Homo sapiens: one gene and its partners. The protein of the gene in region 3 purifies or fractionates together with the protein of the main gene of each other region. This does not show direct contact. Each region holds a gene or a part of one and is shown on either strand. Other genes may lie near its edges. The genes, in order: HEXA, NUDT5 and SULT2B1.

Region 1 (2,528 bases), on a different chromosome or scaffold from region 3:
TTGAGCATCCTTGGATTTTGGTATCCACGGGGGTCCTGAAACAAATCCCCTGTGGATACTGAGGGACAACTGTATTTTGTGGCAAACACTGTGCTAAGTTTGTTACAAATATTGTCTCATTTAGTCTTCACCACAGCCCCATGAGACAGGTGCATTTTAGAGATAGACACTGAAGCACAGAGTTCAGGACCTTGCCCAAAGTCACTAAGAAGCAGGATTTGAACCAGGCTGACTTACAGGATGTCATGACACCTTTGCCTCTGTCAGGGATGTGCCTGTGTAAGATAGTCATTTCCCTGATTCCTTCGTTGGCTAGGTCTTGAGTACTTGGGGGACATAGCCTAGTGCAGAGCAGAGTCCTGGGCTGAGAGTCAAGCATGATGGTGTCTAAGCCTCAATTATGTCATTCACTGGGTAACTTCCAGCTGGTTCTCTAAGCATGTTGCTTACTTGGATGATAAGGGAAGCATGCCTAGAGGTCCCCTAAGGAGATTGGTCAGGTTATAGACTGAGACCCAAGGACAGGATTTCGCATCCATGTTCATGGACAGGACAGCACCTAAGTCCCCCAGTGCCACCATATTTACAGCATTTTAGAGTCAGGAACAGAGGGCTAAGTAGACCAAGAGCATTGGCTGCCTTTCAGACATCCATCTATATTCTAAAGGGATTGAGTTATTTGGGGTTAGGGTACAGAGATGGGCAGGATATAAATAGATGTCGCCAACGTTTCTGGATCTCCAAGACCTGTATCAGAATCACCTGAGGCACCTGTTCAGCTTGCAGATTCTTGCCAATACTTTGCCCCACCCCAGGTGAGAATCTCTGGAATTGAGATTCCCAGGTGCATTTGGTGTACAGTGACAGTTTGAGAGTCACCGAAATGGGGAAGGAGAGACTGTTGACTGGTGTGAAAAGTGTTGCTGGGGCCCCTTCTGAGGGGCTTATCTTGCCATTTCTTCATGTCCTCTTGCAGGCGAGGTGTCCAGGCCCAACCCCTCAATGTAGGCTTCTGTGAGCAGGAGTTTGAACAGACCTGAGCCCCAGGCACCGAGGAGGGTGCTGGCTGTAGGTGAATGGTAGTGGAGCCAGGCTTCCACTGCATCCTGGCCAGGGGACGGAGCCCCTTGCCTTCGTGCCCCTTGCCTGCGTGCCCCTGTGCTTGGAGAGAAAGGGGCCGGTGCTGGCGCTCGCATTCAATAAAGAGTAATGTGGCATTTTTCTATAATAAACATGGATTACCTGTGTTTAAAAAAAAAAGTGTGAATGGCGTTAGGGTAAGGGCACAGCCAGGCTGGAGTCAGTGTCTGCCCCTGAGGTCTTTTAAGTTGAGGGCTGGGAATGAAACCTATAGCCTTTGTGCTGTTCTGCCTTGCCTGTGAGCTATGTCACTCCCCTCCCACTCCTGACCATATTCCAGACACCTGCCCTAATCCTCAGCCTGCTCACTTCACTTCTGCATTATATCTCCAAGGCGTTGGTATATGGAAAAAGATGTAGGGGCTTGGAGGTGTTCTGGACAGTGGGGAGGGCTCCAGACCCAACCTGGTCACAGAAGAGCCTCTCCCCCATGCATACTCATCCACCTCCCTCCCCTAGAGCTATTCTCCTTTGGGTTTCTTGCTGCTTCAATTTTATACAACCATTATTTAAATATTATTAAACACATATTGTTCTCTAGGCACTGTGGTAGTGGGTTTTTTTGTTGTTTTTGTTTTTGAGACTGTCTCAAAAACTCTGTCGCCCAGGCTGACAGTGCAGTGGCACAATCTTGGCTCACTGCAGCCTCTGCCTCCTGGGTTCAAGCGATTCTCGTGCATCAGCCTCCTGAGTAACTGGAATTAATAGGCACGTGCCACCATGTCCATCTAATTCATATATATATATTTTTTTTTTCTGAGACGGAGTCTCACTGTCACACAGGCTGGAGTGCAGTGGCACGATCTCGACTCACTGCAAGCTCCACCTCCTGGGTTCACGCCATTCTCCTGCCTCAGCCTCCCCAGTAGCTGGGACTACAGGCGCCCGCCACCACGCCCGGCTAATTTTTTGTATTTTTAGTAGAGATGGGGTTTCTCCGTGTTAGCCAGGATGGTCTCGATCTCCTGACCTCGTGATCCGCCCGCCTTGGCCTCCCAAAGTGCTGGGATTACAGGCGTGAGCCACCGCGCCCGGCCGAATTCATCTATTTTTAGTAGAGATGGGGTTTCACTATATTGGCCAGGCTGGTCTTGAACTCATGACCTCAGATGTTCACTTGTCTTGGCCTCCCAAAGTGCTGGGATTAGAGGCGTGAGCCACCGCACGCGGGCCTGTGGTAAATTGTTGAATTTGAAGGACTCAGAGGCCCTGGTCAATTCCAAAATAACGTAGGCGACTTCCATCCCCCTCCTCCCAACCATTTTCAGCCCAAAGCATCTTCGCAGGGAATGGATGGCTGCGCGGAGGTGGGCGGTGGCTCTGGAGAGGGTCTTTGCAGGTGTGATTTTCTCTAGAAGGAAATGTCTCGTCGTGGACCCAGACTGCCC
Region 2 (3,500 bases), on a different chromosome or scaffold from region 3:
TTACAGGCGTGAGCCACCACACCCAGCCTGAGTTTTTCATTATTTTATTTTATTTTATTTATTTATTTTTTGAGATGCAGTTTCACTTTTGTTGCCCAAGCTAGAGTGCAGTGGCACGATTTCAGCTCACTGCAACCTCCGCCTAACAGGGTCAAGCGATTCTCCTGCCTCAGCCTCCCGCGTAGCTGGAATACAGGTGCGTACCACCACACCTGGCTAATTTTTTGTATTTTTAGTGGAGACAGGGTTTCACCATGTTGGCCAGGCTGGTCTCGAACCCCTGACCTCAGGTGATCTGCCCGCCTCGGCCTCCCAAAGTGCTGGGGTTACAGGTGTGGGCCGCCACGCCCAGCCTTATTATATTTTTTAATTCCTTTCAGGAAAAAGAGTCTGCGTTGCTGCTCCCTTCCTCTTCCTTGGCCTCTCTGTTCACTCCTCACAGTGGCCATGGGAGTCCCCTAATGGCCACCAGTTTGCTCCTTTCTGGCCTTTCATTCCCAGGCCTCGGTGTTTTACTATGAGGGAGGAAGACAAGACAGGTGATGCTGTCAGCATCCTACGTGTGAGGAAGCAGAATATGAGCAGGCTTCCTGTGCTGCAGCCACACAGCAAGCTCCCAAGCCTAAGCCAGTTGGTCACCACCAAGTCACATCTCCTCACAGATGCTGCCCGTGCTGTGCAGAGCAGCGTGGAGATGGTCGTGAAGGCTCATGATGGATCTGGGTCTGAATAGGACGACTGGATGATGCCTTCAGAACCTGATTCATCTGCTCAGAGTTTTATTCTTTCGCCTTTTTGTTTCTATAAAAATTCCAAGCTGGGCACAGTGGCTCATGCCTGTAATCCCAGCACTTTGGGAGGCTGAGGCGGGTGAATCACTTGAGGCCAGGAGTTCGAAAGCAGCCTGGCCAACATGGTGAGACTAAATACAAATTAGCCTCTACTACAAATACAAAAATTAGCCGAGCATGGTGGTGTGTACCTGTGGTCCCAGATACTCAGGAGGCTGAGGCAGGAGAATCGTTTAAACCCAGGAGGCAGAGGTTGCAGTGAGCCAAGATCACACCACTGCACTCCAGCCTGGGCAACAGTGTGAGACTCCCATCTTCAAAAAAAAAAAAAAAAAGAGTTCCAATCCTCAGGTTTCTCTGTAAGACCACTTTTCACAGTGCTCCGATTCTCCTAACGTAGTGCAGCAGCAGGTGTGTTACAAGAATGAGGGGTTCAGCCGGGCGCAGTGGCTCACACCTGTAATCCCAGCACTTTGGGAGGCTGACGTGGGTGGATCATGAGATCAAGAATTCAAGACCAGCCTGGCTAAGATGGTGAAACCCCATCTCTACTAAAAATACAAAAAATTAGCTGGGCGTGGTGGCACGCGCCTGTAATCCCAGCTACTCTGGAGGCTGAAGCAGAGAATTGCTTAAACCTGGACGGGCGGAGGTTGCAGTGGGCCGAGATCGCACCACTGCACTCCAGCCTGGGCGACAGAGTGAGACTCCATCTCAAAAAAAAAAAAAGGAGGGTTTAAAGAACCGGATTTCCCGCTCCCATCACACCAATGATTTGGACTTGCAGGTCTCATAGATGATGGTGAAACCCCAGAAGCAGCTGCTCTCCGGGAGCTTGAAGAAGAAACTGGCTACAAAGGGGACATTGCCGAATGTTCTCCAGGTTGGTATTGCTTGAAAATTCACCAAGTGATGGATTCCTCCGTCTGGGAAGGGATTGATTATTTGGGTGTTCTTTACGCTCAGAATTCACTGAAGAGAAAGAAATCACAGATTAGGACTGGTCACCAAGTGTAAGGGAATCTCCCCTCCCAGGAGGAAACTGGAGCCAGAAGGGCCTGAAGTTGGGGGAGAATTAATGAAATTAAATTGCCTTTTGGCTGGATGTGGTGGCTCATGCCTGTAATCCCAGCACTTTGGGAGGCCGAGGCAGGTGGATCACCTGAGGTCAGGAGTTCGAGACCAGCCTGACCAACATGGTGAAACCCATCTCTACTAAAAATACAAAAATTAGCCGGGTGGCGCACACCTGTGATCCCAGCTACTCGGGAGGCTGAGGCAGGAGAATTGAACCCAGGAGGCAGAGGTTGCAGTGAGCCAAGATCACGCCAGTGCACTCCATCCTGGGCAATAAGAGCAAAGTGAAACTCTGTCTCAAAAAATCAATTGCCTTTAGGAATTTCCTACCCCCTGAGTTTTATTGCTCACCCATCTCATGCATGTGCTACCCTCATCACTGGAAGATTTTTTTGAGTTTGATGTGGTGAAGGGATTTTATGACTTGACAGTACCATCTAACCCCGCAGACCTAGCAAGCTTGACTCGAGAGCTCTGGGGAGAGTGTGAGTGCCCAGATGCTTTGCAGCCTGCAGATCTGCCTACCAAATGTGAGAACTAGTTTTCCCGCATCACCTCCACGTCAATGCTGAGCTGCGGGACGCATCTTCTTCCTAAGACCATAGTGAAACAAATGCCAAAGGGACTGACGCATCTGACTGTCCCTTCTCTCCACAGCGGTCTGTATGGACCCAGGCTTGTCAAACTGTACTATACACATCGTGACAGTCACCATTAACGGAGATGATGCCGAAAACGCAAGGCCGAAGCCAAAGCCAGGTATGTGTGTGTCGGCTGTGATGAAGGTGGTGTGGTTGCATTACGTGTCTTGGAACTTGCTGCTAGTTTGATTTATTAAAAGAATGTAGTCTTTCATGGAAAGAATCGGTCTTTCAAATAGACTTCATCAGTATTCTTGTCTCTCTTCCTAATCATGTATTTTAGCATTTTTCTTTTGCCACTTCATTCATCTTTACGCTTTCTTTGTAAAAAAATGTTAAATGACATATTTCCCTGTTTTCTATATGAAGTGTATTCCCACTTAGTAATATGAGCTGCAGGCTTAAGTAGTAAACAGTGAGAAACTTAAATCACCCTGGTTTCTGTCTTCATGTATATTTTAAGAATGGCCTAAGTTCCCCTGTAGTCCCAGCTGCTCTGGAAGGTGAGGCAGGAGGATCACTTAAGCCCAGGAGTTGGAGGAGCTATGATGGTGCCACTCTGTGACAGAATGAGACCATGTCTCTCTTAAAAAAAAAAAAATGGCCTAAGTAATTGTTAACGGGCAGCAGATTATTCACTATTTCTCTTTGCTCTATAATATTTCTTAGCAACTTTGGATTCAAAAGCTGTGATGTCTCTGTCAATTCCGTGTTGTCTCTCCCATCCTTTTAAAGGGGGTATTTATATGTGCACCACAGTAAATCAGTATCAGTGATATTCTTTAACTTCTTACCCTCTTCAGTTGTTCATATTTATGTTTCAGTATCCCACTGCAACTAATTTTAAGTCTTATTTTTTGCCGGGCGTGGTGGCTCATGCCTGTAATCCCAGCACTTTGGAAGGTTGAGGTGGGTGGATCACTTGAGGTCAGGAGCTCGAGATCAGCCTGGCCAACATGGTGAAACCCTGACTCTACTAAAAATACAAAAA
Region 3 (3,733 bases):
CTGGCAGAGAAGGCAAGGTTGCTTAACCTCATTTTCGGAGCCAGAAACTGAGCCTTACAGAAACCATGTCGCTCGTCCAAGGGGACAAAGCTAGGAAAGTGGTGCAGGGCAGAGACTGGTGAGCTGTCCACCCAACCCCATTTCATTTTTCTGCTGGGAATATGGCGTGATGACCTTTTCTCTTCTCCCCTGCTGCTATGTGTGGGGCCAAGAGACTGGGTCTGGCCAAGGAAGTATAGGTGGCGGCGATGTGATGTGCGGCTATTTCCAGGCCTGGCCCATAAACGCACGCCACGTGACTCTCCACTCCCTCTCTGCTTCTGGATACAGAGACTCCAGGGGAGAATCTGGGACTCCCGGGGATGGCAGAGCCATAAGATGGAAGGAACCAAATGTCTGGGAATGCATGGATATCCCCCCACCAACTTCCTTCCACCCTTCCTGCACCAACTACAGTTTATAGGAAAAAGAAACAAACTTGGCTTCAGCCGCTGAAATTCTGAGGCTGATCTATTAGTACAGCCAGAATTGCTTTACTTATTTATTTTTTTGGGGACAGAATCTTGCTCTGTCACCCAGGCTGGAGTGCAGTGGTGTGATCACAGCTCACTGCAGCCTTGAAATCCCGGGCTTAAGAGATCCTCCTGCCTCAGCCTCCCGAGTAGCTGAGACCACAGGTGCACACAACCACACCTGGCTAATTTCTTATTTTTATTTTTAGAAGACATACGGTCCCACTATGTTGCCCAGGCTGGTCTTGAACTCCTGGGCTCAAGCAATCCTCCTGCCTCAGCCTCCCAAGGTGCTGGGAGCAGAGGCATCATGCCCAGCAGGCACTCCTTTAATACATGGAGAAAGCTGGAATTGAACCCAGGTGTCTGGACATAAAAATCTCTGCTCTTTTCACTTTTCACTGCCCACTTTTGAGGGTCACCCCTTTTTTTATTATACTTTAAGTTTTAGGGTACATGTGCACAACGTGCAGGTTAGTTACATATGTATACATGTGCCATGTTGGTGTGCTGCACCCATTAACTCATCATTTAACATTAGGTATATCTCCTAATGCTATCCCTCCCCCCTACCCCCACTTTTTTTCTTTTTGAGACGGAGTTTTGCTCTTGTTGCCCAAGCTGGAGTGCAATGGCGCGATCTTGGCTCACTGCAACCTCCGCCTCCCGGTTTCAAGTGATTCTCCTGCCTCAGCCTCCCTAGTAGCTGGGGTTACAGGCATGCACCACCACGCCTGGCTAATTTTTGGTATTTTTAGTAGAGATGGGATTTCACCATGTTAGCCAGGCTGGTCTCGAACTCTTGACCTCCAGTGATCCACCTGCCTCAGCCTCCCAAAGTGCTGGGATTACAGGAGTAAGCCACTGCGCCCGGCTGAGGTTCACCTCTTTATTTCTGTGGGGAGCCACAGAATGTTACCTAGTGGAAAGGGACCTCATCAAGGACCCAATTCACAGTTTTGAATTTCAGGAGACCACAGGCTGTTCAGAAGAGAAACAATTACGTTCAAAATTACTTTCTGTTAGTATTCATTGCATTTAATTCTTTTTGAGACAGGATTCCGCTCTGTGACCTGGGCTGGTGTGCACTGTTGCAGTCACAGCTTACTTCAGCTTCAGCCTCCAACTCCCAGGCTCAAGTGATCCTCCCACCTCAGCCTCTGGAGTAGCTAGACCACATGTACCCAGCTTTTTTTTTTTTTTTTTTTTTTTTGAGAAGGAGTCTCACTCTGTTGCCCAGGCTGGAGTGCAGTGGCTCTATCTCGGCTCACTGAAACCTCTGCCTCCTGGATTCAAGCAATTCTCCTGCCTCAGCCTCCCAAGTAGCTGGGACTAGAAGTGTGCCACCACGCCTGGCTAGTTTTTGTATTTTTAGTAGAGATGGGGTTTTGCCATGTTGGCCAGGTTGGTCTCAAACTCCTGACCTCAGGTGATCCACCTGCCTTGGCCTCCCAAAGTGCTGGGATTATAGGCATGAGCCACCATGCCCAGCCTGCGCCCACCTAATTTTTAAAATTTTTGTAGAGATGGGGTCTCACTGTGTTGCCCAGGCTGGTCTGGAGCTCCTGGCCTCTAGCGATCCTCCTGCCTTGGCCTCCCAAAGTGCTGGGATTACAGGCGTAAGCCACCACATCCAATCCATTCACTGGATTTCATTCTAACAACCACCTTGTACCAGTTATCAGTTTACAGGCTGGTGGCTCCAACTTCATGCCTCTCTGCCGTTTTTGTGATATTGGAGCTGGACCCTGTAAACATTTCTCCTCTGCCAGCTAGCTCAGTGTTAAACCTTGTCAGCAGAGGGCGCTGGAGGAACACTGAATGAGGATGGGGCTCTTCCTGATTCTCACGAGCTCCTCTTAGCGGGATCTTGTGATGGACAGGGGCCAGCCCTGCACTAGACACGCAGTGACGTTTACCCCTCCCCCTAGCAAATTTCAGTGGCCTGTTGCACTTCAGTGAACTTCTCAGTCACCCAGTGGGTCATGACCATACCTCTGCAGCGAAACTCTAATCTTGTGTGGGGAGCCGGTTGGGCAGGGAAGTCCTTCTTCCCAATTTCTTTCTTTCTTGGGAGTTTGGCTTCAGCCCTAGAGGAAGTGGCTGCACCCTATTTTAGCTATTCCTGTGTGTGGTGTTTTTTGTTTGTTTGAGACGGAGTCTTGCTGTGTTTCCAGGCTGGAGTGCAGTGGCGCGATCTCAGCTCACTGCAACCTCCACCTCCCGGGTTCAAGTGATTCTCCTGCCTCAGCTTCCCGAATAGCTGTGACTACAGGCGCACGCCAGCATGCCCAGCTAATTTTTGTATTTTTAGTAGAGACAGGGTTTCACCATGTTGGTCAGGATGATCTCAATCTCTTCACCTCGTGATCTGCCTGCCTCAGCCTCCCAAAGTGCTGGGATTACAGGCGTAAGCCACTGTGCCTGGCCTTTTGTTTGTTTGTTTGAGACAGTCTGGCTCTGTCGCCCAGGCTGGAGTGCAGTGGCGCAATCTCCACTCACTGCAACCTCCGCCTCCTGGGTTCCAGCCATTCTCATGCCTCAGCTTCCCAAGCAGCTGGGACTACAGGCGCGCACCACCAGGCCCGGCTAATTTTTGTATTTTTAGTAGAGACGGGGTTTGGCCATTTTGGCCAGGCTGGTCTTGAACTCCTGACCTCAGGTGATCCGCCCGCCTCGGCCTCCCAGAGTGCTGGGATTACAGGCATGAGCCACTGCACCCGGACGAATTTCCTTCCTTTTTACAGCTGAATAATATTCCATTGTATGAATATAGCATAATTTGTTTATCCATTCATTCATGAACGGCAGATATTTGGATAGTTTCAGCTTTTGGTCATTGCAAATAATGTGGCTATGAACATTGGTGTACAAATATCTGTCAGAGTGCCCCCACCTAGTATTTAGTTCTTTTGGGCATATTCCTGGAAGTGGAACTGCTGAGTTAATATGGTAATTCTATCTTTAATTTTTTGAGGAACTGCCAAACTGTTTTCCATAGCAGCTGTACCATTCTACATGCTCACCAACAGTGCACAAGGGCCCCATTTTCTCAACATCCTTGCCACACTTGGTATTTTCTTCTGTTTTTTCTTTTATTTTTTATTTTTGAGACAGAGTTTTGCTCTTGTTGCCTAGGCTGGAGTGCAATGGAGTGATCTCGGCTCACTGCAACCTCCACCTCCAGGGTTCAAGCGATTCTCCTGCCTCAGCCTCCCAAG

Evidence for each region.
Region 1: the proteins of SULT2B1 (region 3) and HEXA fractionate together in Homo sapiens (co-fractionation; one large-scale study listed by BioGRID). This does not show direct contact.
Region 2: the proteins of SULT2B1 (region 3) and NUDT5 fractionate together in Homo sapiens (co-fractionation; one large-scale study listed by BioGRID). This does not show direct contact.

Annotation. Positions count from the first base shown.
Region 1 is NC_000015.10:72,342,589-72,345,116, reverse strand, and holds part of HEXA (beta-hexosaminidase subunit alpha isoform 2 preproprotein), read left to right. Parts: intron 1-976; coding exon 977-1,040; 3' UTR 1,041-2,528. UniProt on the Homo sapiens protein: Hydrolyzes the non-reducing end N-acetyl-D-hexosamine and/or sulfated N-acetyl-D-hexosamine of glycoconjugates, such as the oligosaccharide moieties from proteins and neutral glycolipids, or from certain mucopolysaccharides.
Region 2 is NC_000010.11:12,171,892-12,175,391, reverse strand, and holds part of NUDT5 (ADP-sugar pyrophosphatase), read left to right. Parts: intron 1-1,578; coding exon 1,579-1,674; intron 1,675-2,525; coding exon 2,526-2,627; intron 2,628-3,500. UniProt on the Homo sapiens protein: Enzyme that can either act as an ADP-sugar pyrophosphatase in absence of diphosphate or catalyze the synthesis of ATP in presence of diphosphate.
Region 3 is NC_000019.10:48,583,041-48,586,773, reverse strand, and holds part of SULT2B1 (sulfotransferase 2B1), read right to left. Parts: intron 1-3,733. UniProt on the Homo sapiens protein: Sulfotransferase that utilizes 3'-phospho-5'-adenylyl sulfate (PAPS) as sulfonate donor to catalyze the sulfate conjugation. Responsible for the sulfation of cholesterol.